Linked DNA regions of Homo sapiens: region 1 is reported to be linked to region 2. Evidence: microRNA targets listed by miRTarBase, many of them from high-throughput screens and not tested one by one. Region 2 holds a microRNA gene; the other region holds the end of a gene's coding sequence.

Region 1 (13,114 bases), not on the chromosome of region 2:
TGTGAGCCACCTTGCCTGGCCACAGCCCTTCTCTTCTAAGTAGCCCCACTCATTGCTCAAGTCACGTTCAGTGTCTCCACCTCCAGGGAAGTGCTTCCAGGTCCAAACACCTTTCATCTGAGTTCCCAGCACCCGTACAGATCTCTGTCATTACACATATGCCACATTTCAGAGTGCTTTGCTTATGCATCTTTCTTCCCTGCACGGAGGGAGAGGGACAGGATGAGACAGGAGAGGAACACAGTACCCTGCAGGGGGAGGCAGGAGGGACCGCCCTGAGGCTTGGGTCTGGTCCCCTCCAGCCAGTCTACACTTGTGGAGCGTGGTCTGGGTGCCAGGCTCAGTGCTGGGTTCTGTGGGGACAGATGATTATGACACAAAACTCATGCCACAATTTGTCAATGAGCCCACGTTTGATCATGTAGGACTGATTCTCAGGCCCCAGTCGGGGAGTGAAGCTGGGGAGGCGTGAGCCGGCCTCTGAGGGCCCTGGGTTTGGGGTCTGAGAGAGGAGGCAATGGGGAGGCGTCCAGTGACAGGACGTGGGGCGGTGGGGTGGTGTGGCGGGGAGCCTGAGCCATAGGCAGCTGTGTGGAGGAAGCAGAAAAGACGGCGGCTGGGGAGGAAGGTGCCGGGGACAGGCCACCGGCTGCCCAGGACACCGAGAAGGGGCATTGTGGAGTGGACTGACGGGCAACAGGGGTCACTGAAGGGTCCGCAGAGGCGTAAGGAGGAGGCAAAGGCAACACCACTGGCTGCTTTAGAGGAGGGAGGAGTGTTTCCTTCAGGTCCAGGAGTTGTGTTTTGCTCTCCCAGGCCCTTTGCTACCCCTCAAAAGATGAAGCTAACACACATCCGGGACTGCCTCCCCTCACAGCCTTGGGGAGTCCGGGGGGTAGTCACTGACTTCCCCATGTAGTGATCTCTGATCAGGATCTGCTGGATCCAGGATGCCCCTGCCAGCCTTCTCAGGAAGAGAGGCCCACACGGATACCCTGCTTCCTGTCTCCACAGGGAGAACTTCCTGGTCCTAGATGTCTTCTTTGAGGCCCTGACCTCTGAAGCCATGGAGCAGCGAGCAGCCTATGGCCTGTCAGCCCTGCTGGGTGAGACTGGTGTCCCTGCCCCCAGCTTGTGTGGGGGTGGATCGGCCCGGCCGCTCCCTCTGACACTGCTCTCCTGCTTCCCAGGAGACCTCGGGGGACAGATGGGCCTGTTCATTGGGGCCAGCATCCTCACGTTGCTGGAGATCCTCGACTACATCTATGAGGCAAGGGCCCTGGAGAAGGCAGGGTGGGAGTGGGGGCCGTGGGCAAAGCAGAAGGGGGCAGTGCGGGGTGCCTGGTGGAGCTGGCCTGGCTGGAAAGTCAGGTTCAGGGTTCTCTGCCAGGGTCCCCTGACTGGCTGGCAGGCCTGAGGGCTCAGAGTCAGGAGAAGGGGATGGGTGAGGAGGAGGAGGGTGTCCTACTGGGAGTTTGCTGTGGCAGTAAGTCCTGTGGGCAGCTGGGCATGGTAAGGCTCACGCTTCTCCTCAACCAAATTTCCTGAGCCCACTGCTGTCCCCGACCCTGAACCCCAAGGTGTCCTGGGATCGACTGAAGCGGGTATGGAGGCGTCCCAAGACCCCCCTGCGGACCTCCACTGGGGGCATCTCCACTTTGGGGCTTCAGGAGCTGAAGGAACAGGTGAGGACAAGCTCTAAATGCCTGCAGCATGCAGCCACACCTCCCCAGGACTGAATACATCCATTGTTTCTGAACCAGCCTGTGGAGGGGGCCCTGGAGCCTCTGCCCGAGGTGACAAGGAAAGGCTGGCGGTGTGAGCCCTGGGGGCACCACTTGAGCTCTCCCGGTCCCACTCTCTCTTTTCTTTCTCCTGCAGAGTCCCTGCCCGAGCCGGGGCCGAGTGGAGGGTGGGGGGGTCAGCAGTCTGCTCCCCAATCACCACCACCCCCACGGTCCCCCAGGAGGTCTCTTTGAAGATTTTGCTTGCTAGGACGGTGCTGTGACTGAAAGGACCCAGGAGTCTGGGACCCCTCCTGGGATCCCCAGCACATTCTCCTGCTCCTGGGAGAGGCCTGGGGGCGGTGCTCACTGGGAGGGCCAGGACTCAGTTCCTGCTCTCATCCTCCCCTGCCCTGATGTCAGCTGCTTTGCACAAAGGTCCTTCTTGTCCACACCCCTTATCCCCAGGCTGGTGCCCCGGGAGGGCTGGAGACCAGGCCATGGGCCCTCACGGAGAGGAAGGGAAGGAAGGAGAGGGAGGGGGAGGATAGAGCCCATCCCAGCCGGGGAGGGGGAGCCCTCTGTACATTTGTAAATATTTAGGGAAAGCCGGGTGGGGGGAGGGGATACAGATGTAGAAGGTGGGTAGGGCTACAGGGGTGGGTGATTTAGGGACAGCCAGGGTCCCAGCCCCAATGTCAGCAGGATAGGGAGAGCCCCAGGACTCAGGAGTGCTGGGCTGGTCCTACTTCCTGCCCCTCTCCAGGCCCAGCTCCCCTCTTGGCAGGGGGAGAGGATGGCCCAGCAGGCCTGGCCCAGCTCCCAGTTCCCCCTGCACCAGCCCCACCCCTAGAGTCCCTTCTATAGGGAGGGGGCAGGAGACCTTCCAGACTTCGGCTGAGCTTGGAGGGTGGGAAGGGAGCCTTCTCAGTCCTCTCTCCCTCCAGTCTGATTTTATAAAGTGCTGACGAGATTGGGAATAAAGAGGCATAAAGAATTCTCTGTGTGTATGTGTGACCAAGCACGCACTGGGGGCCGGGGTGAGGCTGGGCACATGCATGACTTGGTCCCGGGTGAAAGGAAAGGCAGGCCCCAGCAGGGGCAGGGGAGCCTGTGGTGCTCAGCCAGTCCTCCCTCCCCCACGCCTGCCTACCTTTTCAAAACCTCTGAATCACAAGTCCACACTTGGCCAGTTTATTAAAGGCAGGGAGCTTCGGCAGGGTCCAAAAGGGAGAAGTTGGGAGATGCCCCCTCCTCAGCTCCCTCCTTCCCCAACAACTCTTCTACAGCCCAGCCCCCAGGGCCCAGAGGCAGGGCTGGCGTCAGGCAGACTGTACTGCATAAATACGTGGAGGCCACAGCCCGAATCAGCAGCGTCAGGGGGCAGGGAAACTGGGTTTGGGATGAGAAGTGGGTGGCTCTGGGGGCACGTCCCCCAGTGCTTGTCCAGAGCCCAGGGACCCACAGAGCCAGAGAGGGGACCAGTGGGCCAGCTTGGGGTCTGGCTACGGCCAGCCCTGCCCAGCGAGGCTGGCAGGTGGCTCTGGTTTTGGGGGAGAAGTGGGGTGGGGTGTGGCCATGCCACGGCCCACGGGGACAGGGTGGGGTCAGGTGCTGTTGCCCTGCTCCTGTTCAAAGAGTAGCATGGCCAGCTGGGTTCGGGAGCCGAGGCCCTCAAGCACGCTCTGGAGGCAGCGGTGGTACAGGTCCTCACTGAGCCTCGCGCTGCACGTCTGGGCCCGGTAGCGCTGCAGCAGCGCCGGCTCCACCGCCCGCAGCACATGCAGACTGGAGAAGTGGAGGAACAGCTCGTACACATCCAGGCTCTCCAGCAGCTCCTCTTCTTGTTCTGAGGCTGCCGCCAGGCGCCCACGGGCTGCCACATAGTCGGAGTTGTAGAAGCAGGCCTCGCTGGCTGCCTGGCGATCAAAGCGGCCAGTGTCACGGCCCAGCTCTGGGGGCCCAGGCCCTTGTGGTGGGGCCACAGCTGGGTGGAAGGCTTGGAAATGCATGGGAAAGAAGGCCTGCCAGCCGGAGATGGCATGCATGCGGCAGCGGTTCAGGAAGTCAGGCGTGAGCACCGTGTCTGGCCCGGCCAGCAGGAACAGTGTGTCCAGCGGGTGCTTCTTGGAGAGTAGATCCATGAGGCGCAGTGGTGAGGGTGCGGCTGTCTGCACACTGAGCCATGGCACCCGGGCACCGGGGAAACGCCGCTCCAGCTCTGCCACGTGGGCCTTGACAGGTGCGAAGACATCTGCATGGGCCACGCGCTGGGCCTGGCGCGGCTCATACAGTAGCAGCAGGGTCAGGGCTGCCGCAGCATCACCAGGCTCCAGTGCTGCAGTGGCAAAGGCCTCCAAGAAGCCAGGGGCCAGGTCACGCTCAGCCGCAGCTAGAGGCAGCAGCACAGTGAGACGTGAGGCCTCAGTGACATAGGGCACAGGCAAGATCTCCACGCGGCTCAGCGGCCGGAGCAGCTGCACTCGGCGAGTGAGGGGCCGGCGGCCTCCCTGGGGGGTCAGTGCCTCCAGCTGCAAGTCCAGCGTGTATTCCATACCCCGGGCCGGATCAAAGCGTCGGTAGCCATTCACCAGCTGCTGCTTCTGGAGCCGCAAGGCCGGGTGGTAGCGGCGGTTCAGCTCCTCTAGAGCTGTCCCCAGAACATCGGCCACATCAGCCCGGTCAGCCCCACGCAGTGGGCAGCGGGGTGAGCCATCGGCGCAGGAGAAAGCGTGCTGCTCCGTGAAGTAGTCCCAGCGCAGCACCTCAAAGCGGGAGGCCGGGCGGGATGGTGCTGGAATACCCACGGGCCAAGCAGCTGCCTGGTCCCCATCAACGGCCAGATGGCTGGTATTCTGGATCTCCCACTGGATCAGAGAAACAGGCCATCAGCAAGGGACAGATTACAGGGAGCAGCACACAGCTGGGGGACTGGGTAGGCAGTAGGTGCCACTCAGGATGGGCCCCTCATCCCCTGCCAACCTCTGCCCATACCTATCATTTCCCCAGCATAGACAGCCAAGAGGCTCATCAGAGAATGTAGAAACAGGCAGGGGCTGGGAAGTAGTTTTGTTCTGTGATTCTAGTGCTAACTTGTCATTTCTCTGGGCTCTCTGTGACTTCTCAGATCCTGTCCCCGTCACTCTGCCACCCCCAGACCTAGACCATACCTGTAACTCCTGGATCTCCTGGTACGTGCGTTCCAGTTCAGCTCGGGCGAAAGCTTTGTGCAGCTGGTACATGTGCACAGGGTCACGCACAGGGTGGGCTGTCAGGGCACTTCGGAAATGAGGGTCCCCCTCCTGCACTGGCTCCCCAGGGCTCAGCTCCAGATGGCTATAGTGCACCCCCTGGGGAGAGGAAGGGAAGGGATCTGTGATGAGCTGGCATTGTCTTCCGTTGTCTCATAGTAAGTGTCTCATCTCCTCAGCCTATGACCTGTTGTGGACTTGCAGTCTGAGGGTTTAAGTCTACCTTGACCAGTTGTGAGTCTGTGTGACCTTCAGCATGCCTCCGCTAGCTCATCTGCGAAATGGGCATGCGTCCTGTCTCAGAGCTGTCCAAGGGCTAAAATAATAACTAACATCAAATGCCTATTATGTACAAGGCTCCCTGATTTTTTCTAATCCTTGTAACAACCCCGAGCAATAATTATTTCCATTGGCACAAAGGAAGATACTGAAGCCCAGGATATTTAGTAATTTACTGGGGGTCACAGAGATAGAAAATAAATGTCCGAATTGGCATGGAAAAGCAGACCTGTATCTCCAACATCCCTTTGCCTCTCAGAGGGATTTGAACATGACAAGGAGGTATCAGTGGGATAGCTTATCATCCCACCTCGTGGTCACCAGTGCAGCCCACCCCGGTGGCATCGAGAATGCAGCGACCCAGCCACTCGTCAGGGCGCGCACTGACGATGTCGTTGCGGCAGCCTTCCAGGTGGGGGCGCAGTTGTTGCAGCAGCATGCGCGACAGCAGCACCCCAAAGCCTCCGTGGCAGTAGCGGCCGGGGGTGGGCTCTCCGCCGATGAAGTCCTGGGGCCGGCCCAGGTACAGGTGGGCGGCGGAGGCCAGGCTGAGGTGGCCAGTTAGGCGTGCCAGGCCGTGCGCCTCGGTGTAGGTGGTGTCAGGCACCAGGAAGAACCAGTCAAAGTCGTCGCCGTGCTGCTCCAGCAGGTGGCGCAGCGCCAGGTGCAGGTGTCCAATGGGTCGCTCCTCGCCTAGCGTCACCACTGCCATGCCAGGTGGGGCCCGGCGGCCCCGTGCGCCCGTCAGGAACACCACACGCTCCAGCCGGTGCCCCAGCGTGCGGTTCACGGCCACGCCCAGCGTGGGCAGCGTGGTCTGAGAGGTCAGCACCGCCACCAGCAGCCTCTGCCTGATGCCCAGCTCCGTGCTGATGTAGCGGGTCCTAGGGGAGGAGATGGCACAAGCTTATCAAAAGGACAACGGGGCGGGGGGTGGGGGGGAGGTGGTCAGCACAGACCCTGGCAGGTCACGTCTTCTCTGTATCTGTTCTCTCACCTATGAATAGGTTAAAAATAAACCCTCTCTCCCAGGGGTCATGAGGATTTAAACGAAATGGTCTTAAACAGGTAGTGCTTTGCATTTGGGAGATGGCAATACCCACCCAGATAGGAGAGAGATATTGTGGGTCTGACTCCGGGGTTCGCTACTTAGTAGTTATGTCCTTGAGCATGTTATTTAACCTGAGCCATCTGTAAAATGGGACTGATTATATCTGTTTAAAGCACCCAGCCAAACGCTGGACACACCATGTATCTACTCATTTCTATATAAATATGCCATTATGCCACAAATGCCTCACATAAATGACATAAAGGAACGTTTGGCATAGGGGTGTACTGAGTGTTTTTGCGGGGAGGGGCAAACTGCACTCAGGGGCTCTAGGAACTTACCTTTTGGTAAGGCAGAAGGTAAATTGCAGAACCAGCATTTGAACCCAATGTTACTTAGAAGTTATTTCAACTCATCAGCAGAGACATTAATGAGATAGGTACATTCCTCCCTCCCCCATCTCACCCTGAGGTGGCCCTTGTAACCCACTCAGGAACAAGAGATCCAGGTAAATCCTAGTTCTCTCCTTTCTCTTCCCCTGTCTCTATACACTCACCCTATATATAAGTCATTTCTCTAACACCAGCAGCCCAGCCAGGGAGCTAGTAGGATCTCTGGGGCGCCATCGGGTCGAGCCGGTTTAGGACACAGTCCAGTAAGTTCAGCCCAGGCCGGGATAGGGCCCAGAGAAAGTCTCGGACTGGCCCCACGGCTCTCGGGAAGGCAGGGCCATCGGAAGTTATCGGGGCCCAAAGACTTCCTGGCTCGCCAGCCCCTTCCTTCCGGAGCCTGACCCGGGCCCGGGCGACCTCCCCGCGCGCTTCCCGGCCGCTGCCCAGGGGGTAGAGCGGGCGCAGCCGATCACTACCTGACGGCCTTTTTGGCGGCCTGGCCGGGCTGTGCAGGGTGGTAGGGCAAGACGCGCGGCTCCCAATTCTCCCCGGCGCCTTCGCCGGCCCCGGGCTTCTCGCGCTCCGCTCCGGGCTGCACCGAGTTGGGCCGGCGCGCCGCGTTGGTGTTGCCGCGCGGCGGCAGCTCAGAGTCTCCAGGTTGGGGCGGGCCTGGGCCGCACGGCTCCTCCACCCAGGTGACGCTGAGCAGGCTCAGGGTGAAGCCCAGGGAGATGCCCACGGCCACGGGCCCTGCGGGCCGCAGCACCGACAGCAGCAGCGATGCCCGCATGGCGCCCGGACCGCGGGTCCCCGGCCCCGGCGAACCCCCAGAGCAGCCAGAGGAGTCTCCGAGGGGGCGGGACCGGGGAGGGGGCGGATCCGGAGGGCTCGGGCCCCGCGGGCGGGCCCGCTCCCTCCCCGCAGAGCAGAGCCAGCGGCCCGAGCCGAATCCCCGGAGCCGCGCCTCGATTCCCCTCCAGCAGCTGCTCTGGGCTGCGCAGGGTTCTTGCGCTCGGCACTGGAGCCTCAGCCGCGGCCGCAGCTGTCCGACGTGTCACTGCAAGGGCCCCGCCCCCGGGGTGGGGTCTCGGGCTCTCGCTACCGGAGAGGGAGGAGAAGGGGGAGGTTAAAGGGGAAGGACCCCCGGAAGTGCCCCCTCCTCAGTGCGGGAGAGGGAGACGCCGGGGGCGGAGTCCCCTGCCTCCCGCGGCGTGGTTGGTGCGTCCCATGTGACGTCAGAAGCAGCCCGCCCCTGCCTGGATGGTGCGCCCTGAGTGACGTCAGGAGCAGAGGCCGGAGCTGTCCATCAGCACCAAAGGCCGCGGGCGGGCTCAGGGCATGGGGCCGCGGTTCTGGGGCGGCCCGAGCCCCGGCTCCTGCGCCTTCCCCTTCCTCAGGCCCAGCCCGAGTTCCCGGACGCCGCGGGACTGGAGTGCCAGCCGGTGTTGGACGTGGAGCGGCGCCGCCACCGCGCCGACACCATTCTCTCCGGCCCAGCAGCCCCCTTCCTCGCACGACGGACTTTCCCTGGACCCCAGTCAGTTGGAGCCTCTGGCGCCCCGCAACCCCGGCCCCTCGGGCCTCTGCACAGCCTCTTTCACTCAGAAGCTCAGGTCGCCTCCAGCCCAGGTAAATCTTGGACAATCCCATATTGAGCCGCCCACAGATGAATCTCTTGGCTGCCTCCTTCTCACTGGCAGCACGCTCCCTTCATCCCCCCGACTCCCGTCCCTCTTTTAACTTCATCCCAGCCTCCACTAGCCAGGCACTTTTGTTTCCCTTTGTCTTTGCTCCCCACTCCAGAGATGCTTCCGGAGCTGCACAAATGTGGATACTATTCCTTTGTCCACTGTCCTTGCTGAGTTCTCCCAATCCCTCTCCCACCCCCATCCTGGTGGGGACCCAGGACTCCTCCGTGACCCCAACTTTCCCTCTGTCAGGTTAACTTGGGAGGGTGACTCCCTTCTATTCCCAGCACTATGCCGGGGACTGTGGCAACACTGCGGTTCCAGCTGCTGCCCCCTGAGCCAGATGATGCCTTCTGGGGTGCACCTTGTGAACAGCCCCTGGAGCGCAGGTACCAGGCACTGCCGGCCCTCGTCTGCATCATGTGCTGTTTGTTTGGAGTCGTCTACTGCTTCTTCGGTGAGATCCCCATCTCATCCCTCACCTGGGCTCCCCAGTGTTTCCCCGAGTTCTTTTTCTGGGCCCCCAAGTCTTCTCTGAATCCCTCTACCATCATGAATAATTCTTCCTTTTCTTTCATCCCACACATTTATAGATTGTCTAGACTCTAGATTATAGGAAAAACAGGTTTTTGGATTAGGCACACCTGAGTGTGAATTTACTTAGCTTTGCAGTTACTAATTGTGATGTCTTGGGCACATTAATCTGTCTGAGCCTCAGTTTTCTCATCTGAACAATGATCACAATATTTGTCTCATGTAGTGTTGTAAGAATTAGTAAGCATTCAATAAATTGTAGCTATTGTGAGGATGTGTTTGGCTAACTGTGCTAGGTAGCCACTGAAAACACTTAGCAGGGTTATTACACATGGTCCCTTACCACAGGGCATATTGTCTGACAGGGAGGAGACTCCCTGGAGCATTTACACCTGGGATACATATTAGAGTGGGCTGGATGGTGGTCACACACATCCATCCAGCCTACAAGGCAGGCTCCGGTAATCAGAGCTGCTGTGAATACTTGTACAGGACGGGTACTAAATAAGGGAGCTCAGCTGAGTGGGCAAGTGGGGGCTAAAGTCCAGCTCATGCTCTGACAAACTCTGGGCCTTGGCACAAAGCTGCTTTGCCTAGAGAAAGGCACACCTTTTTCTAATATGCATAAAGGTGCCAGATGGGCTAGTGGCCCAGTATAATGGGAGTAAGTGACCAGTGGCTTTGCAGCAAGAGTTACAGAACTTCAGAGAGGAGAGTGAGCTCTATGGGCTGGGGGCCCAAAGAAAGCCTCCAGGAGAATTGTAGGTGAGTGGGACCAGTGGGGGCAAATGAGTCTTGGGGGCTGGGGTTCCAGGTTGAGCAGAGGTAGTGCAAGACTTGTGTTCTGCAGCCTCCCCCTGCAATGGGTGGGTAGACAGGGTTGGGAGCCAGATGGTCCCTCCCATTCCTCCCCCAAACTCTGGGCTGAACAACTGAAGAGTAGGCAGGAGGAAGTGCCCCCCGCAAGGGTTCAGGACACGTTCTGGGCCTCCAAGGATTCTGTATCACCTCACCCCCTCCATATCTGTACCCACTCCCTCTGCATGTTGCTCAATGCAGCCTCATATTCCCTCTCCTGGGCTTCCTGACATCCTACCCCTCTTGGATGTCACTACGCCCAGGCTCATGGACTCTGAGCCCTTGTCCACGCCCTACTCCTCTCTCTGATCACGAGCCTCCTGGACTCTCATACTTCCCCCCACTCCTGGAAGTGACTCTCCTCTGTTATCTTTCTTTTTGGCTCTCTCTGACTCCTTGACCCCCATCTCTGATTTCCATCTTTCCAACTATTCAGAATCTCCACTTCCCTCACCCTTTCAAGTATCTCTAATGGGCCTAATGGCCCTATAACCTCCTTATTTCTGAAACTCCACAAACACTGTTTCCTTCTCTTTGATTCTGTGTGACCTCATGTAAGCCTTAGTGACCTCCACCTCCTCTCACCTCCAGTTATGTCATTACCTTCCATCCCTCTGACCCCCTCTATTACTCCTAGTCTTGATCCCTGGTTACTCCTCTCTAATTCCCATAACCTCATTATCTGATCACCCCTCCCCATACTGTGATCCCAGTAATTCCTTGTTTTGGTCTCAGTGTTCCTCTCTCTTGGAAATCGTTTTATACTCTCGATGATTCTATTTCTGTCAATCTCCCTAACCTACAAATACCTCATTTTCTGGGACAACTCCCCAGTAATGCTGCTACTCTGTCCTCTTTGTAACCTTTCAGTGGTGCCATTATCTCTGAAGCCCTGTGACCCCCAAAGACTCATCTTTCTGAACCTGTGTGACCCTCACCTCTCAAGTTTCTTTTTTTTTTTTTTTTTGAGACAAGAGTCTCGCTCTGTCACCCAGGCTGGAATGCAATGGTGCGATCTTGGTGCACTGCAACCTCTGCCTCCTGGGTTCAAGCGATTCTCCTGCCTCAGCCTCCTGAGTAGCTGGGATTACAGGTGCGTGCCACCATGCCCGGCTAATTTTTCGTATTTTTAGTAGAGACGGGGTTTCACCGCGTTGGTCAGGCTGGTCTCAAACTCCTGACCTCATGATTCACCCGCCTTGGCCTCCCATAGTGCTGCCACCACGCCCGGCCCTCGAGTTTATTATGATTTCCAAATACCTCATCTCTGTGAGCAATCCCTTCTCAAAGACCCCAATGACTCTTTTTCTGATCCCCTTGGGACCCCAGTGACTTCTCTCTCTGACTCCTATGATCCCAAAGACACCAATGCACGAATTCACTCTTGACTCAAAAGATTTATCCTAACTCCTGTGATCCTCAAATACATCAACCCTCATGATCTCAATGGTTATGTTTGCCTTCCCATTGACCACCAACAGCCATATCTCTCTAACCTCCCCTGACCTCAATGGCCCCATCACTGATGCCGTCATGACTCCAGTGACCCTCAATTCTCTGATCTTAGTGTCTTTGTCTCTGGTTCCCCTGGGATCCCATGTCCTTGACCCCTTGGACCTGCTCCCTCCAGCCTGGTGCCCTCATCTTGGCCCCTCACTAGCCCCTGTTCCCCTCCAGGTTACCGCTGCTTCAAGGCAGTGCTCTTTCTCACTGGGTTGCTGTTTGGCTCGGTGGTCATCTTCCTCCTCTGCTACCGAGAGCGGGTGCTAGAGACACAGCTGAGTGCTGGGGCGAGCGCGGGCATCGCTCTGGGCATCGGGCTGCTCTGCGGGCTGGTGGCCATGCTAGTGCGCAGCGTGGGCCTCTTCCTGGTGGGGCTGCTGCTCGGCCTGCTGCTCGCAGCTGCTGCCCTGCTGGGCTCCGCACCCTACTACCAGCCAGGCTCCGTGTGGGGTCCACTGGGGCTGTTGCTGGGGGGCGGCCTGCTCTGTGCCCTGCTCACTCTGCGCTGGCCCCGCCCACTCACCACCCTGGCCACCGCCGTGACTGGTGCTGCGCTGATCGCCACTGCCGCTGACTACTTCGCCGAGCTGCTACTGCTGGGGCGCTACGTGGTGGAGCGACTCCGGGCTGCTCCTGTGCCCCCACTCTGCTGGCGAAGCTGGGCCCTGCTGGCACTCTGGCCCCTGCTCAGCCTGATGGGCGTTCTGGTGCAGTGGAGGGTGACAGCTGAGGGGGACTCCCACACGGAAGGTAAGGGGGCACAGGCCAAGGTGGACATGAGAGGAGTGGGTGGCCAGGGATGGGTTGGGGGCCAAGTGACTGGGGAGTGGGGGACAGCAGCAGAAGGCCTCGATGGCGGTAGAGAGCTGACTTGCTCAGGGTCTGGGAGGATAGCACCCAGGTGCCATCATTCATTCCACAACAACATATGGAGTGCTGGCTCCGCACCAACCCCATTCCAGGCACCAGGGATACAGCAGAGATAACACAGACAAGGTTCCTGTCCTTATGGATTCAAGGCAGGCAGGAGACAGATAACAGAGATGCAAACAAACATGATTCCAGTTGTGTAGAGTGATATGACAGAGACATTGTGCAGGATAATGTGAAAGAATGACCTATGGAAGCTATTAGAGTTAGGGTGGTCAGGGAAGGCTGCTTGAAGGAGGTGATATGTAAGCAGGCACTTGAAGGCTAAGGGGCCAGCCATGCAAAGAGCTAGAGAAGAGGGAACAGCAAGGGCGAGGGCCCTGAGAAGGAATGAGCTCAGCTTGCTTGAGGAAGTGGGGCAGGAGTATGGGAGGTGAGGTGTGGGAGCCAGAGTGATTGCGTGGACCCTCTGGGTCATAAGAAGCACTCCACATTTTATTAGAAGGGCAATAAGACTTTAAACCACTGGAGAGTTTAAAGTAGGGGAGGATAGAATCTAATTTAGCTTTTGGGATGCTCATTCTGCTGCCGAGTGTAGAAAGCATTGGAGGGAGCAAGTGTAGGGGGAAACCAGTGAAGAAGCAGCTGTGATTGTCCAGTGGAAAGATGATGATGGCTGGCCTAGGTGATTGGGAGAGGGATGACAGCCTGGAAGGGGGTACCTGGAAGCCTAGCAACCTTCCATAAAGACCTATGGAAGAAAAGAACAACAGCGGGAAGTCTCCTCTGAGAGGTAGGAGACCAGGAAAGGAAGTGACAGGGTGGGAGTAAGGGGTTATGGACAAGAGGAATCTGGAAGCCTAGAGCCACAGGTGGGATGAGAGAGGGAGGGCTCAAGGGAAACAAGGCGCACCGTCCTCTGAGCTCCTTCTCTACCCATCCCACCACAGTGGTCATCAGCCGG
Region 2 (15,855 bases):
AAGAGAAAAAAGATAAAATCAGAATCTCAGAATCAAGCTAGCATGTAGCCACCAGAAGTTCTAGAAAAAGCAGCTCAGAAAATGGGAGTAGGGATGGAGTGAGTTGCCAGAAAGGGGCAGAGGTGATTTGTCAAAGAAATAATACATGACAATTTCCCTGACCTGGAGAACAAGAGTGTTATGATGAAAAGGGGCCCCCTAGGACCATGTATGGTGGAGAGAAGACCCACCACAAACCACATCACCTTGAAGACCCTAAAGGCCTCCCAAGCGGAAGGGGCATGAGAAACTCTCAGCTCCCTCTAAGAGATGAAGCTTTTAGGAAGATCAGCAAATCAGAATGACATGAGACTTCTCCACAGCCACACTAGAAGCCATAAGACATCAGAGTGATGTTGTAGAAGTTCTAAGGGAAAAGCACTTTCCACCTAGAAATTCTATACCCAACCATCAAATGTGAGGATTAAAAAAAGACATTTCAGATGTGCAAGGTCTCACACAATTTACCTCCCCAAGCACCTTTCTCAGGAAGTTACTGGAGGATGTGCTTCAATGAAACAAATCAGTAAGTCAAAGAGAGGATGATGTGGGATCCACAGGCAGAACATTCAACCCAGGAGAGAGAAGGGCAATGGCTGTGCTACAGGCACAGATTGTAGCTGGGGACAGAGAACTCCAGAAGGCATGACTCCAGGAAGAAGAAGGAAGGGAAAGAACAGCCCCTGTGTTTGACTATATAAGGCTGGGGTAGAGCCGTTTCCCACAGACACCCCAGTTTAGCCCTGTTCTGCTCTTCCGTCTGACTAGAAGGGCCAACACACAGGTGGAATCCCCTTAATCCAGGATTCAGTGGGTTCCTACAACAACCAGTAATGCTGGGCAGGATTCTCCCCACACCAGGAGAAATCACATTTACTAAAGACTTAGGCAACCTGATACCTGTAACTTCTGGGGTGGCCAAGAATACAAGCATCCAGAGGGAAGTCCTGCAGGGTCAAATGCGGCCACCACATGCCCAGAGGGAAACTCCTGGCCCATATCCAGTCTCTGGCTTCCTCCTGCATAGCTGTTGCAGACTTCCTCCCAAGGGCTGGCACCCAGAGCAGCTGGGGCACACACACCCTGCCTTCCCCTCCAGATGCCTGACGAGCAAAGGCACAGATGTGGATGGGCTCCCATGTGTCACTCCCAGCTGTCACCAGGGTGTCACACTCACCGCCACATGTCCCCCCTCCTCACTAAGGAACCGCCGGACGTCACGGAGGGCTGCCAGGGCACACTGCCTTCAGGAGAGAAAACACAGGGTCAGCCCAGCACCCGACCCTGGCTCCAGGAGGGTGGCCAGGGACACACAACAGGAGGAGACATGACAGGAGAAGGAACAGCCCCGAGGTCTCTTGCTCTCTTTTCAAAGTTTCCCTTCTCTTTCCTTAGGATAATGTTCAGTGTTTGGCTAACTCTGCTCCTGTGAGGTGGAAGGCTATACACTCTTGGCTATTAGGAACATTTTTTAAGCACTACGTTTCTGTATTTTCCCTCATCCTCTCATTGTGCACAAATCCATGCTGTCATTGTGCCACATTCATGATTTCTAATTGTCATATATTTTCCCTGATTATCAAAATAAGCCCCCCCCCGCCCGCCTTTTATTTATTTATTTATTTTTTTTGAGACTGAGTCTCGCTCTGTCACCCAGGCTGGAGTGCAGTGGTGCGATCTCGGCTCACTGCAACTTCTACCCAGTTTCAAGCAATTTTCGTGCCTCAGCCTACTGAGTAGCTGGGATTACAGGCGTGCACCACCACGCCCAGCTAATTTTTATATTTCAAAATAAGCATTTTTAAAAGCAGCCGTTTTCTTGTGTGCATGTCAGGAGTTGGTGGTGGGGATGGGAGGAACACTAGGGCTGGCCCTCGGGCAGTGTTAGGCTTAGTGCTCAACTTTCTTTCCTGAAAGAGAGTTCCCCAAACCACCCCTTCTGAGGGAGGGTTCTGCATCTCTTCTTCTATCATATCCATACCCTCCAGAATGGGAATCCCCCACCTATGACCAAACACTGACTATACAGTTTTCAGATCTTTTTTTTTTTTTTTTTTTTTTTTGAGATAAGGTCTCGCTCTGCCACCTAGGCTGGAGTGCAGCAGTGGGATCATGCCTCACTGCAGCCCAAACTCCTGGGCTCAAGCAATCTTCCTGCCTCAGCCTCCAGAGTAGCTGAAACTACAGGGATATGCCACCACACCTGGCTAATCTTTAAATTTCTTTTAGAGATGGGGTCTTGCTATGTTGCCCAGGCTTACACAATCTTTTTAAGTTCTCAGCTTTTTCATTTATTGCTGCAAAGTGGATTGACACAGAAGGTTTGTTTTTTTTTTTAGACAAGAGTCTTACTCTCTGTTGCCCAGGCTGGAGTGCAGTGGTGCAATCTCAGCTCACTGTAACCTCTGCCTCCCAGGTTCAAGCAATTCTTGTGCCTCAGCCACCCAAGTACCAGGGATTATGGGCACGTGCCACCACATCTGGCTAATTTTTGTATTTTCAGTAGAGATGGGGTTTCGCCATGTTAGCCAGGCTGGTCTCGAACTCCTGACTTCAAGTGATCTGCCCACTTTGGCCTCCCAAAGTGCTGGGATTACAGGCGCGAGCCACTGCACCCAGCCAGGATTATTCTCATCAATTTATCCTATGAGGTCTGGAGATAGATAAATTACCTTTTTATCTATTATCTTCCCTTTTTCTATGTAAGGGTAAAGCTAGATCTCCTAGCTTTGTGTTTTTTGTTTTTTGAGACAGAGTCTCACTTTGTTGCCCAGGCTGGAGTGCAGTGGCATGATCTCAGCTCACTACAACCTCCACCTTCTGGGTTCAAGCAATTATCCTGCCTCAGCCTCTCGAGTAGCTGGGATTACAGGCATGTGCCACCACACCCAGCTAATTTTTTGTATTTTTAGTAGAGATGGGATTTCACCATGTTGGCCATGTGGGTCTTGAACTCCTGACCTCAGGTGATCCACCCTCCTCAGCCTCCCAAGTGCTGGGATTGCAAGCTTGAGCCACAGTGCCCAGCCCTCCTGGCTTTGTTGATCTTTGGATTTTGTGTTTAAACTCCCAGCATGTCAAAGTCAAAGGGCTCTCATCAGGACGATATGCCTGAAATACAGCGGCAGAAGCTGATCTGAGAACCACAAAGAAATCAGTGGTAGAGCTGAGTCCAGGGCACTGAAAAGAGCTCTACTCTTACGGCTCCTTGTGACATTTCTTTTCTTTCTTTTGTTTTTTTTTTTTAAGAGACAGGGTCTCACTATGTTCCCCAGGCTGGTCTTTAACTCCTAGCTTCCAGTGATCCTCCCGCCACAGCCTCCCAAAATATTGGGATTACACATGTGAGCTACTATGTCCAGCCCTTGTAACCATTTCTGTGCCCCAATGGGTCTTCCAGTTAAAGCCTCAAAGTGCTTTCTTCCTCATGCCAAAAACATCTGAATTCTGAGAGTCCAGGTAACTGGCATTGGTAGGGACATTTCTCCTTAGAGCCCCACGTTCTGGGCTAAGATCTCTTTTGTGGGCTGCTCTGGCCATGACACCACCATGCAGGAGAGACCTCAGGGCCCCGGTGGAGATGCTGAGGGAAGAGCCTGGGAGCCTGTGTGTGTGCGTGTGTGTGTGTGTGTATAAGAGAGTGCAAATGGGGTGAAGAGATGCATATGTGCATGAATCCACACGTGTGGGTGGTTATGTGTGTGTTGTGCCCAAGTGTGTACATGTAAATCTGTGAGTGTACCTGTGTGAGTATTCCCTGGGCCCATGTATGAGCACAGGTGCACACACACGAGCGTGCACAACCCCTGTGTGCGGTATGTGACTAAATGGGCACAGGTATGAGTGAGTGTGCCCACATGTGTGCACACAGGATGTGTGTGCATGCACCCATGTGTATAAGTTTGTGTGTGTGTGTCCAAGCATATACAGAGTATGCATGTGGGGGTGACCATGTGTGTACACATGGTGTGTGTGTATACATGTCTTCATGTGCCATGTGACTGTGTGAGAACATATGCGATCATGCTTGGTGTGTACATGTGCACAGATCCACATGTGCATACAGGTGAACACAAGCGTATATGTGCCCACACACATGACTCTGAGGTATGCATATGTGTGTGCACCCACCTTCATGTGTAGTGGGTGACTGCATGTGTGTGGAAGAGTTAACACAGCAGGTATGAGAATGGTCCCCTTCGAAAGGCCTGCTTGTGAGGTTGGCCCTTGGCCAGGGTTGGGGAACTTGATGGTAAACAGTTCCCTCTAGTGATATGAAACTTTCCCTGAATTATAAGAGGAGCTCACTGTGCATAGACTGTTTATACAAACAACATGGTTTATGTTGATTATCTGCTTTCCTTCTGGGAGTCTGGAATTTTGGTACATGCTAGGCACAGGGTGCCTATATGACCAGCCCCCAGTAAAAACCTTGGTCGTTGAGTCTCTGATGAATTTCCCTGGCAGACAACATTTTACACATGTTGTCAATGTTCAATGCAGGAGGAATTAAGTGCGTCCTGTGTGACTCCATGAGGAGAAAATCTTGATGCTCGCTCCTGGTTTCCTCTGGACTTCACCCCAGGCCCCTTTTTCTGATTTTGCTTTGTGTCATTTTGCCGTACTAAGTCTTAGCCATGAGTCCAGCTATATGCCAAGTCCTGGGAGTCACCCTAGCAAATCACTGAACCTGAGGGCAGTCTTGGGGACCCCCTACACACCATGTATGAGCGTGCTCAGGTGTGTGTGTATATACAGGGTGAGAACATGTGCGCCTTCGTGTGTGTAATGGCCCTTGAATTACGTGTGGCTTAAGTGAGCCCAAGTATTTATATGTGTAGGTGCCCACACATGTACATATACCCTTATGTATAACGTGACTGTGTACACAGGGGGTGTGCATGTGTATGTACCCTGTGCATATGGTATACGCATGTCCGGATGTGTGCCTATGAGGTATGCACATGCATGCATGTGCCCACGTGTGTGTGTGCATAGGGGGCTTGTGTGTGGTATAGGACTGTGTGCAGGAGTATGAGTGTGCCTGTTTAGAATATGTGTACTTATGCCCTTGCATACACTTTGTTTTTGAGACAGAGTCTTACTCTGTCACCCAGGCTGGAGCACAGAGACGCAATCTTGGCTCATTGCAACCTCCACCTCCCAGATTCAAGCAATTCTCATGCCTCAGCCTCCTGATGTAGCTGGGATGACAGGCGCCCCACCACATGTGGCTAATTTTTGTAATTTTAGTAGAGATGGGGTTTTGCCATGTTGGCCAGGCTGGTCTCAAACTCCTGGCCTCAAGTGATCCACCCACCTCGGCCTCCCAAAGTGCTGGGATTACAGGCGTGAATCACTGCACCCGGCCTTGCACGCACTTTTCTAGATCTTCTGCTGTGTCCAGTGTCAGAGATGGACCTCAACACTGTGTGAGTAACTGGGCCTCTGGGAAATGCAGCTGTCTCTTCCCAGGTTTTCCATTTTAAAAACTCTGGTCCTTTTATTTTGCTAATTGGGAAATTTTGGGCTGATTAATAGGAGATGGCCCTGTGGCCCAGCCAGAGCCAGGATTCGGATACAGCAGAGAGGGTTTCTAGGGCAGCCAGAGGGTATGCCTGCAGAAAGGCAGCAATGAGCCTGTCCCCAGCTTCTGTTGCAGGGTGACCTTGGACTAGCTTCCCAACCTCTCTGAGTCTAGGTCTCTTCATTTGAATTAATCCCAAATATCCCTACCTTAGGGGGACAGCCAGAGTGGAACAGCTGGCAGACTCTCCCCACAAACACTATGGATTCAGGCAGGACGGACTTCAAATTCAAACCCTGAGTGACCCAAGGCACCCCCATCACTTTCTGGCCTTGGTCCCAGCATCTGGAAAAGTGAGGCACCGCCCACCACAGAAGCTGCTGGGAAGATCAGACAGTAGGCTATCAGCGTCCACAGCTTGGGGTTGTTGGCTGAGGCAGAAGAATTGCTTGAACCTGGGAGGCGGAGGTTGCAGTCAGCTGAGATTGCACTACTACATTCCAGCCTGGGCGACAGAGTGAGACTCCATCACACACACACACAAATAATAATAATTTTTAAAATAAATAAATAAAATTTGCATTTGATGTTCCTTGACCTACCTATTGAGGAATATTGGAATGATGGACACTTTTTAGCGGTGGATGGGCTTAGATTCAAGTCTGGGCGCTGATGTAAACTTGCTATTTTGTGCGAGACTCCTGGCCTGTCTGAGCCTCAGTTTCCTCATCTGTAAAAGTAGGGGGTGACAATGGGCATCAAGAACCCAGCACACGGTAGGTTCAGACATTAGTCCTCTACTTTTTATCTGGCTCAATATAACCAGAGGGTCCAGCCTTGATTTTTACCCACAATTTGGCCATAGAAACCTGAATATCAGGCTCCCCTTCCCTTCTTGGTGCCACAGCCTGGCCCAGCCACACCGATGCAAGAACAAAGGCAGTCTCCAGTCTGAAGGTCCAAGCCCCACAGCAGGGAGTTCCTGCCCCCTGGTGGCCAGAGAAGGAACGGGTAGCCTAGTGTGGACCCCAGTGGCAGCCTGGTAGCCACTGGGCTTGATTTGGGGAAGTCACTAGAGCTGGGTCAACCTCTGCTCACTGCCCTATCCTGATGGCTGGGCCAAGAGCAAGTCTCTGCCACCCTAGGTTGATAAGGGGCTTCTCAAGACCACAGCTAACACCTCCTGAGAAAAGCACAGCATGGCTGCTCAGACCACCAGCTGGTGCTCAGTTCCTTGAAGAAAGGACTCAGTTCAAGTCTGAAAGTTGTTGAGGGTGGGGCGGTAGCATATACATATTTCTATCTCCAGAGTAACAGCAGAAGTGTGAACGACTCACCCAGCAGCATCTAGGAGATGTCAATGCAAAGCCAATCGCACCAGCAATCACACACCAAGAACATGCTCCAAATACACAGGAGAGAGCTTATCCTGGGGCAAGGGAGGAAGCCCCCCACCCCCAGCTCCATCCCTAAGGCCTGTATGCCTGCACTCACTCAGGTTCCCTTCCCCAGCAGCAGCCATCCCCACGGGGCGCTGGGGTGAGCGAGCGTGACCTCCAGGCAGCAGCTCCAACGACCTGCATGGGCTGAGCCCCTCTTACCTCCCTGAAGCTCTGTCCTTCCCAAGGGTTCCTTAACCCCAGGGCAGGAATGGCCCAGCCACCAGGAGGCCACACAACACACCCTCTCCTCTCATCCCCAAACCCATCACCTCCCACCCCCACCACATCCTGAGAGATCCAGAGACCAGCCTTGTCACACAGCCCTGTCACACAGCCATCAGGGCTGGGCAAGGCCAGGGCTCAGGAGTAGCTCAGTCATTCACCAGCAGCTCCACTCCAGGGGCTTCTCAGTAAATGGTCAGTAATGTGTTAGCTTTCTCCACACTGGGTCCCCCAGCAACCTCTCCCCCCACACCCAACACATATACTTACTTCCTGATTTTCAGGCCCTCTTCATTGTCGGGGAGAAAAAATTCAAAAGATTTGTAGGTCTTGACCACGTCCCGGCGATACTGGCCAACATTGAACTCTGGAGGGAAGGAGAGGCTCAGCTTTCACAGCAACAGCAACCCCTACCAACCCTGACCTTGACCCAACCCCAGGCCAAATAATAGAGAATAGGCCTTCTCTATTCTCTTCGTCATGCCCCACAAAGCTCCCCTTAGACAGCTGGGGCCAAGCCTCACCCCGAGTGGGCACACCAATCCAGTTCAGGTATCGAGTCAGCTTCTTGGAGATGTAGGTCTTGCCCCTGGCGGGCAGGCCCACCATGACAATGAGAGTTGGGCAGTTGGTCATGCACACTAAAAGGCAAGCAGCACAGTGTCAGATGAGGGCTGGGACCCTCCCAGCGCACCCCTCCCTCTCAGCCTGTGGTCTCTCAGCCTCAGGGCATGGGACTGGCATCAGACGTATCTTCTTGGCTTCCTAGCATCCCCACACAGCTCCTGGAGTGGCCCCAGATGCTGGTTTCAAGCCACCGTTGGCATGTCCCCCTTCCCCAGGCCCGCCTGGGCTCTGGCAGACACAGTGGGATCTCTCCAGCCCTTTTCATCCTGATGTGCACCACCAGGCATAAAGTCAACCGAACTTGCCACTGGCTAAACATGGCTAGGGGGGTCCCCACCGCATGAAGGACAGGACCAAAACCCAGCAGGGTAATCAACACCCTGCCTCTGTCATCCAGGAATCCATACCCTAACCTTTTTACATCTCTCCCACCCCATCCATCACTCAGTGCTCCCAGAACACATAGCCCCACTGCATGCCCTCCCTGTGGTGAACTTCTTTTCATCATACAAAGCCCAGCTAAAAAGTCACTTCCTCAATGAGTCCTTTCCCCAAGGCATCTCCATGGCCACCGGGAACACCCCTCACCCTCAATCCTGGTCACCTCACTAATGACACTCTTCTCTCTAGACTGATCACTTACAGCAGAAGAAGCCCTGTGGTATCTGAGCCCTTTAGGGCCCTGGGGCCTGGCACAGCGCTGGTGCTCAGGAACTGTGGGCAGGATCAGGGAGGGAGGCATCTAGAAGTCTCTCAGGGTAAGGACCACAAGGGGTTGAGACCAGAGACCCAGACTGATGCCCACAAGGACAGTCCCTCTGATAGCCCACCCACCACCATCCATGTGCCACAGGTCAGTGTGCCAGCCAGAGAAGATGCCAGGCTAGAGGCACGGAAGGATCTGAATACAGCCCCCTATATTCCCAGCTGGCTAGAACAGATACCAAGGCAGCAGAACTGCCAGCTTCATCTTATGGGACCTAGCTCACTTTTCTTTTTTTTTTTTTTTTTTTGAGACGGAGTCTCACTCTGTTGCCCAGGCTGGAGGGCAGTGGTGCGATCTTGGCTCACTGCAACCTCTGCCTCCCAGGTTCAAGCGATTCTCCTGCCTCAGCCTCCCAAGTATCTAGGATTACAGACACCTGCCACCACACCTGGCTAATTTTTGTATTTTCAGTAGAGACGGGGTTTCGGCATGTTGGTCAGGCTGGTCTCAAAACTCCTGACCTCAGGTGATCCGACTGCCTGGGCCTCCCAAAGTGCTGGGATTACAGGTGTGAGCCATCACCTCCAGCCTTCTTTTTTTTTTTTTTTTTTTTTTTTTTTTTTTTTGAGAGGGAGTCTCGCTCTGTCGCCCTTGCCCAGGCTGGAGTGCTGGAGGACACTGGTACCCAGCTCACTGCAACCTCTGCCTCCCGGGCTCAAGCAATTCTCGTGCCTCAGCCTCTCAAGTAGCTGGGATTACAAGCACATGCCACCACACCTGGCTAATTTTTGTATTTTCAGTAGAGACAGGATTTCATTATGTTAGTCAGGCTGGTCTCGAATTCCTGACCTCAGGTGATCTGCCTGCCTCGTCCTCCCAAAGTGCTGGGATTACAGGCGTGAGCCCAGCCCTCAGCTCAGTTTCCAGTGCCATCAAACGCGGTCTCACGTCAGAAGCCTCAGGAAGCTTCCTTTTCCTCATCCTTAGGACCTGGGTCAGGTAAAACCATAGCAGACAGGCAGATGAACAGATGTGGGGACCTGTCACTGCCCCTCTTCTTGGTTCTGCAAGTGCCTTCACCTGGTTGCCTAGACAGACTGTCCCCACCAACAAGTTGTTTCCCTCAGAGCACAGAGGCCCCAGAAGCACTTCCGCAGGGGATCAGGAGTCAGGCCTGGGTTGCCATCTTGAGTCTGACACTCATTGGGAACTCTGAGCCTCGGTGTCCCCAGCTGTAAAATGGGGCAGTCATCCCTCAGAGAAGCCTAGTGCTATCCAAGAGCCTGGGCACTTCTGGGAAGCTGTGCCCTCTGTCCTACCCTGGCGGATACTGAGCTAAAGCCATAGGTGTACCTCGGCACCGACTGCCCTTGGGACTCAGGGCATGGAGGCGGTGGCCTGGCCCCAGGCAGGCCCTGCAGAGAAACAAAGGGCCTTGCTTGCCAGTGGGGGCTCCATCACTCCTGTGCATTCCCCTTGTTTAAAGGTGACCCAAATGGTGAGCCTCAGGGGCGGGAAGGAGGAGACCCCATGAAACAGGCTGACTGAGTGAGAGTGGAGAAACTTGCAGAGAACTCTCAGTATTAGCTAAGGTGAGAGGAAAACAAGTTAGGCAAGGCCTTGCCTCCTCAGGGCCGGTGGACAGCTGAGGCCCGCATTGTGCATTGTTTGCATAGTTCCCGGCCAGGTGGCCGGGCTCTCAAGCAACCAAGGGCAGTGCGACAGCTGCTAAGCAGGAGGAAATCCTGCATCTACCCTGCTCCCGCTGATGGGGCCACCCCCCAACTGCTCCTTCAGGGACTCCCAAAACCTCAGGACTGGGGATCTGCACCCCCTCTCCACATCTCCTATTTTCCCAGAGACAGCTCCAGCCTCCTCCCATGGCATTTGGTGGCATTTCCCTTCCCGCCTTCCACCCACATGCGCAGCACAAGGTGGGCAGGCAGGGCAGCAAATCAGGCCTGGGTGCAAAACAAGGCAATAAATTACCTATCTCCTCTGCTCCCCAAGATAAGCTCCCAAGGAAATGACCCAAAAGAAAACCAAAGTTCAAGTGTATCACAACAGCTCTGCTTACCATAGCAAAACACTGGGAAATTCCAGCCATAAGAAATTGCCAACTGAGGCACAACAAGGAGGGAACACATTGCAGCTCTCAAAACAGAGCACGTGGACTAAGCGGGCTGGGTGCACGGCTGCACCTGTGGCTCTGAGCCCACAGGACCCTGACACTGAGCAAACAGGATGGTAGAATACACTGTTTATAGCTGGGCGTGATGGCACATGCCTGTAATCCCAGCACTTTGGGAGGCCGAGGCAGGCAGATCACCTGAGGTCAGGAGTTCGAGACCAGCTTGGCCAACATGGTGAAACCCTGTCTCTACTAAAAATACAAAAATTAGCCGGGTGTGGTGGTGCACACCTGTAATCCCAGCTACTCGGGAAGCTGAGACAGGAGAATTGCTTTAACACAGGAGGCAGAGGTTGCAGTGAGCCAAGATTGTGCCACTGCACTCCAGCCTGGGGGACAAAGCAAGACTGTCTCCAAAAAAAAAAAAGAACACACTGTTTATAACATTGAGCATGTGCGGAAGGAAATGTGAAGACATGTCAGCCCAACTTCCCTCATGGGTTCCTTTCCTGTAAATTCGCTGCAGGCCCCATGAGCTCTAGGAGCGAAGGGGCCCAAGGGGCCTGAGACGTGCCTGGCAATGGGCAGTGTCTATGTTCCATTACTTCTACCCAAGGAGCAGCCACAAGTCCCTGGAGGGGGTGCCAGAATTGACTCCTGAACTGCAACTGCTCTCACCTCCTTAGGCCAGGCTAGGGAAGGAAGAGCTCTTTAAAATAAAGTAACGTGCCATGGAGGCCCTTTTCAGAGGGGACTGAAAGTCATCTCTCCTGTTGCCCTGTGCACACACCAGTCATGTCCTTACCCAGGAAGAGTCTTGCCACCTTTCAGCTGAGAAAAGCCATCAAACACCGTCCTTTCTGCAGTCCTTCTTGAGTCAGCTCTTGCCCCACCTGCCCTCAGAGTTCCTCCAGGTCTGAGCTCGGAGGCCAATGATGGGAAAGGTAAAAGCCTCCCAAGCCCTCAGGTGTGGCTTTAAATTTTATCAAGCGGGGGCGTGCCTGTGGGAGTGGAGGAGGTGCAGTACATCCCTCAGTCCACCAGCCCCTAGTGCCCTGAGGAGCTGGGGACTAGACTCCAGAGAAAACCCAGTACAAAGCACAGACCAGCAGTGGGTCCTGCTTCTTCCTCCCCACAAAGCCCTGGGACCAAATCCGCTTCCATCCCCACCCACACCCTCCGGGTCCAGACTGTCCTTGCAGTCACTCAACCTACAAGTCTACTATGCAAAGGGTAAAGTGTTGCCCAAATGCAGGCACTGGGAGCTGGAGGTGCTGCATGGGCGGGTTCCATGTTCATTCACTGCTTACCCACTCCCTGCTGTGAACCCTGAGGCCCAAATCCCCAAACAACCTGCAGGTCTCATCTTTGGCCTCTCAGGTGCTACCTCCTCCTCCAGGAAAAAGTGCGGACCTAGAACCCAGCCTACCCCAACACCCTGAGACACCGTGATGGCACGAGCCCCTCAGCTCAGGCCAGAGCCACATTTCAGTTCCACACTTAGAGCCTGGAGAAACACAAGCCCTGCCTCAGGAGCTATGAGACCTTCCCATTGGGCCTCAGCTTCCTCTCACCTGTAACGGGGGTTGGCTTGGAGCTGATGCATCAATCCCTGACTCAGACGTAGTGAGAAGCAAAGAAAGAATGGTAGTGATGACAGAATACCCTGCCTCCGCTTATTGAGGACCTACTCCTTAAAGGCTCACAGACTTGGCTAGGCATGGCAGCTCATGCCTGTAATCCCAACACTTTGGGAGGCCAAGGGGGGCAGATCATTAGAGATAACGAATTCAAGACGAGCCTGGCCAACATGGTGAAACTCCATCCTACTAAAAATACAAAATTAGCCGGCCATGGTGGCGCATACCTGTAATCCCAGCAACTTGGAAGGCTGAGGCAGGAGAATTGCTTGAACCCAGGAGGTAGAGGTTGCAGTGAGCTGAGATAGGACCACTGCACTACAACCTGGGCAACAAGAGTGAAACTCCGTCTCAAAAAAAAAAAAAAAAAAAAAGTCCAGGTCCTCACTCCTTTCCCCTATGTAGTAATAGCAGCCACCCCCCTAAGTCAGGACCACACAGCCCTAATAACACAGACTGGCTCAGCCTCCCCGCCTCCAGAAGAGTCTCAAAGGAGGGGTGGCCATAGCCCTCAGGACTGAGTGTGCATTATAGACAGCACAGCCCCACCAGGACCTACATCACAATCAAAGCCATGAGTTACCACGACTTGGTCTGGTCAGAAACATGGCCTTCCCCTGCCAGGACTCACAGTGTGGCCAGAAATACACACACCCTTCCCCCAGGACTCATATCATGATCAAAGCCATGGCTCCAGGCTGCTGCAGCAGGATGAGCACAAAGAACTCTCCCCTTGCTTATCATACATAAGCAGAGGCAGGATCACAGGGAGACCCAGGCATGTCACTCAATCTCCTGATCTCCATTTCACTGTCTGTTAAACTAGATGTTCTCTGAGGTGCTGGACAAGCTGCAAATTCATTACAATGTTTCAGTTACTCCTAAAACAAATCTTTCTTTTCCTGGTAATAAAAAAGTTGCAGGCCAGGACCCACGCCTGTAATCTCAACACTTCGGAAGGCCGAGGCCAGAGGATCCACTTGAAGCCATGAGTTGGAGACCAGCCCAGACAACATAGCAAGACCCTGTCTCTACAAAAAAAAAGAAAAAAGAAAAAAAAAAGCTGGGTGTGGTGGCGCACCTATAATCCCAGCTAATCGGGAGGTTGAGGTGGGAGGATTGCTTGAGCCCAGAAGGTCGTGGCTGCAGTGAACTATGATCGCGCCACTGCACTTGCTCCAGCTTGGGCCACTGAGCGAGACTCATCTCTTAAAAAAAAAAAAAACTGCCAGCTCATTTAAGGACAGGCAGAAACTCAAGGAAGCGGTTTAAACACCTGGGACCCTAGGAGAGGTGAGCCCCTTAACAATTCCATGAATTTCAGCATTCTCCTAGCTGTTTCACTCTCCAGTTTTACTGTACACCCATGACCCCAGGTGGATACTTACATGTCCCGGGACACAGACACAGGCCCACACGGCATACTTTTCTGTCTCTATCCTGAGCACATCTCTGCTGAAGTTCCTGCCCAAGCTCAGCTTTAAGGCCAAGAGGCACCCTTCCTCCTGTTGGAAAACTAGCCCACCTTTGAAAGTTCTGGGCTCAGAGAGGCCAAGTAATTCACCTAGGGCCACACAGCTCAGTTCCAGTCCAACAACCCGGCCCACACTCCTTGGCCAGGAGAGAGGGAAGGGCCTGGGGTGCCCACAGGGTCCTCCCCAGACTGGGGGCGATGGGGATTGGAGAGGGAAGCGAGGGGGCCAGAGCCCTCCCCGAGGTGATGGTGGCCAGACCTAGCCACCGCCAAGCCGATATGCCCCCACACACCTGTCCCCGCCCCCTGCTCTGCCACACCTGTCTCTGGCCCACCACTGTCACGACCGCCTCACCTGTCCCCAGCAGCCTCCCCAGTCACGGCAACCTCACCTGTCCCCGGTTCCCCATCTGTCTCCCGCCCCTTCTCCATGCGAGACCCCCGCCCAGGCCGCCCTACCCACCCATCCCGGTGCACCTCCCACCTCCTCCCAGAGGACCCCGCCTCACCACCGCGCTGGCAAGCGTGCAGAGCGGGCCGCCCATTGCTGTATGGCATCCAGATCTTCTTCAGGGGGTTCTGTGTCAATTCCCGTGGGGACGCCATCCCGGGGCCGGGATGAGTCGGACTGCGCCGCTTCCAACCCAGCAGCCGGGCCACCTCGGGCCACCCGAGGTCCCGCCCCTTGGGCCCCGCCCCTCCTCAAGCCGCGACAGCCCATGTCTATCTTCCCGCAGGTCCCGCCCCAGAGTGAGTAGGCTCCGCCCCAGCTGAAAGGGGCCCGGCCTCCGACCACGCATGCCCAACTCACCTACCCGCCCGTTTTGGAACAAGTGGGCCCAGTTCTTCAGGCCAGGATCGAGAATGCGCATGCTCAACTCCGGATTGTACTGGTCCCGCCCCAGTTCAAGGCCCGGATTGTGCAGGCCCGCCCCGGATGCGCAAACTCAGCTCTCCCAACCTGCCCGCGCTGATTTGCATAGGCCCCACCTACGGGCTCCGCCCTGGCGCTGCATCCCTGAGCAGCGGCACGCGTGAATTCTGCTACCTCCTTGCTAGGGAGCCCAGGGCCCCCAGGAGGGAGGGGTTTTCATGCAGTGGGACGAGGCCTACGTGACCCGCACGGCCAGGTTGGTCAGAGCCGACAGGGGCCAGTAGGCCTGCAGTCCCAGCCGTCAACTCCGCTGCGCCCTCCTGCCCCTCCTCGGGGTCCCCCTTGACTGCTCCGAGCCCCGGGACTCTTCCGCCGTCCATAGGAGCATGCTCAACCACGCTGGAAAAGCTCTTTTACCTCATGGATAGAGACTCAAAACACATTTCAATATTGTTCCTCTTTCTTTGCTTTGGCTGCTGGGAGCAAATGCGTGGGACTTTTTTTTTTTGAGACGGAGTTTCGCTCCTGTTGCCCAGGCTGGAGTGCAATGGCGCTATCTTGGCTCACTGCAACCTCCGCCTCCCGGGTTCAAGGGATGCTCCTGCCTCGGGTTCCCAAGTAGCTGGGATTACAGGCGCCCACCACCACGCCCTGCTAATTTTTGTATTTTTAGTAGAGGCGGGATTTCACCACGTTGGCCGGGCTGGTCTCGAACTCCTGACCTCAGGTGATACGCCCTCCTCAGCCTTCCAAAGTGCTGGGATTACAGGCGTGAGCCACCGCGCCCGGCCGTGCGTGGCACTTAGTAACCAAGTACTTTGGGTACTCACTAAGCCCTGGGAGTATCTTAATCGTCTTTCCAGAATTTCATTTTTTACAATTTTTTTTTGATTTTTAGTATTTTGGTTTTTTTAACTAAAGTTTTACATATTTTTTGAAAATAATATGTTAATAACATTTTCTCTTCAGGAAAATGGGATGTGCACATTGTCTATCTTACAGTATTACAGTATAAATTAAGTATGTCAATCTCTAAGAAATTCATTTTAAAATACGTTATGGTTGCCTTTTACTATATTTGTATCTCCCTCTTGTCTTTGAAAATGCACTGGGGACAAGGAACAAGGGAGAGATCCAGAAGTTCCTAAACCCCTGGCTCACTTTCTTGTTTGG

The links. Region 2 holds the annotated microRNA hsa-miR-6823-3p (UGAGCCUCUCCUUCCCUCCAG, at 7,598-7,618, opposite strand). A microRNA usually pairs through its seed, bases 2 to 8, with sites in the 3' UTR of a target mRNA and lowers its output. Matches are read on the target gene's strand: a 7mer-m8 pairs with bases 2 to 8, a 7mer-A1 pairs with bases 2 to 7 and ends in A, and an 8mer does both.
Region 1: the mRNA of ASIC4 is a reported target of hsa-miR-6823-3p. The part of its 3' UTR that is shown has no 7-base or 8-base seed match.

The regions. Positions count from the first base shown.
Region 1 is chr2:219,536,052-219,549,165 of GRCh38, forward strand. It overlaps ASIC4 (acid sensing ion channel subunit family member 4), which reads left to right. Exons shown (of 10, transcript NM_018674.6): 7 at 1,015-1,106; 8 at 1,191-1,270; 9 at 1,581-1,685; 10 at 1,882-2,721. The coding sequence ends at 1,995. It overlaps CHPF (chondroitin polymerizing factor), which reads right to left and starts at 7,758. Exons shown (of 4, transcript NM_024536.6): 1 at 7,174-7,758; 2 at 5,565-6,138; 3 at 4,895-5,074; 4 at 2,903-4,591. The coding sequence starts at 7,487. The coding sequence ends at 3,332. It overlaps TMEM198 (transmembrane protein 198), which reads left to right and starts at 7,977. Exons shown (of 5, transcript NM_001005209.3): 1 at 7,977-8,326; 2 at 8,638-8,842; 3 at 11,455-12,030; 4 at 13,101-13,114. The coding sequence starts at 8,677. It overlaps MIR3132 (microRNA 3132), which reads right to left and starts at 13,096; the gene lies at 13,022-13,096. It also overlaps a transcript of OBSL1 not described here. RefSeq lists enhancers at 1,613-2,167, 2,168-2,723 and silencers at 7,190-7,279, 7,290-7,999, 8,040-8,179.
Region 2 is chr3:48,542,364-48,558,218 of GRCh38, forward strand. It overlaps MIR6823 (microRNA 6823), which reads right to left and starts at 7,658; the gene lies at 7,598-7,658. PFKFB4 (6-phosphofructo-2-kinase/fructose-2,6-biphosphatase 4) reads right to left here and starts at 14,440. Exons shown (of 14, transcript NM_004567.4): 1 at 14,318-14,440; 2 at 7,755-7,871; 3 at 7,501-7,597; 4 at 1,217-1,283. The coding sequence starts at 14,414. RefSeq lists enhancers at 8,069-8,732, 8,733-9,394, 9,395-10,058, 10,059-10,720, 14,843-14,932 and 1 more.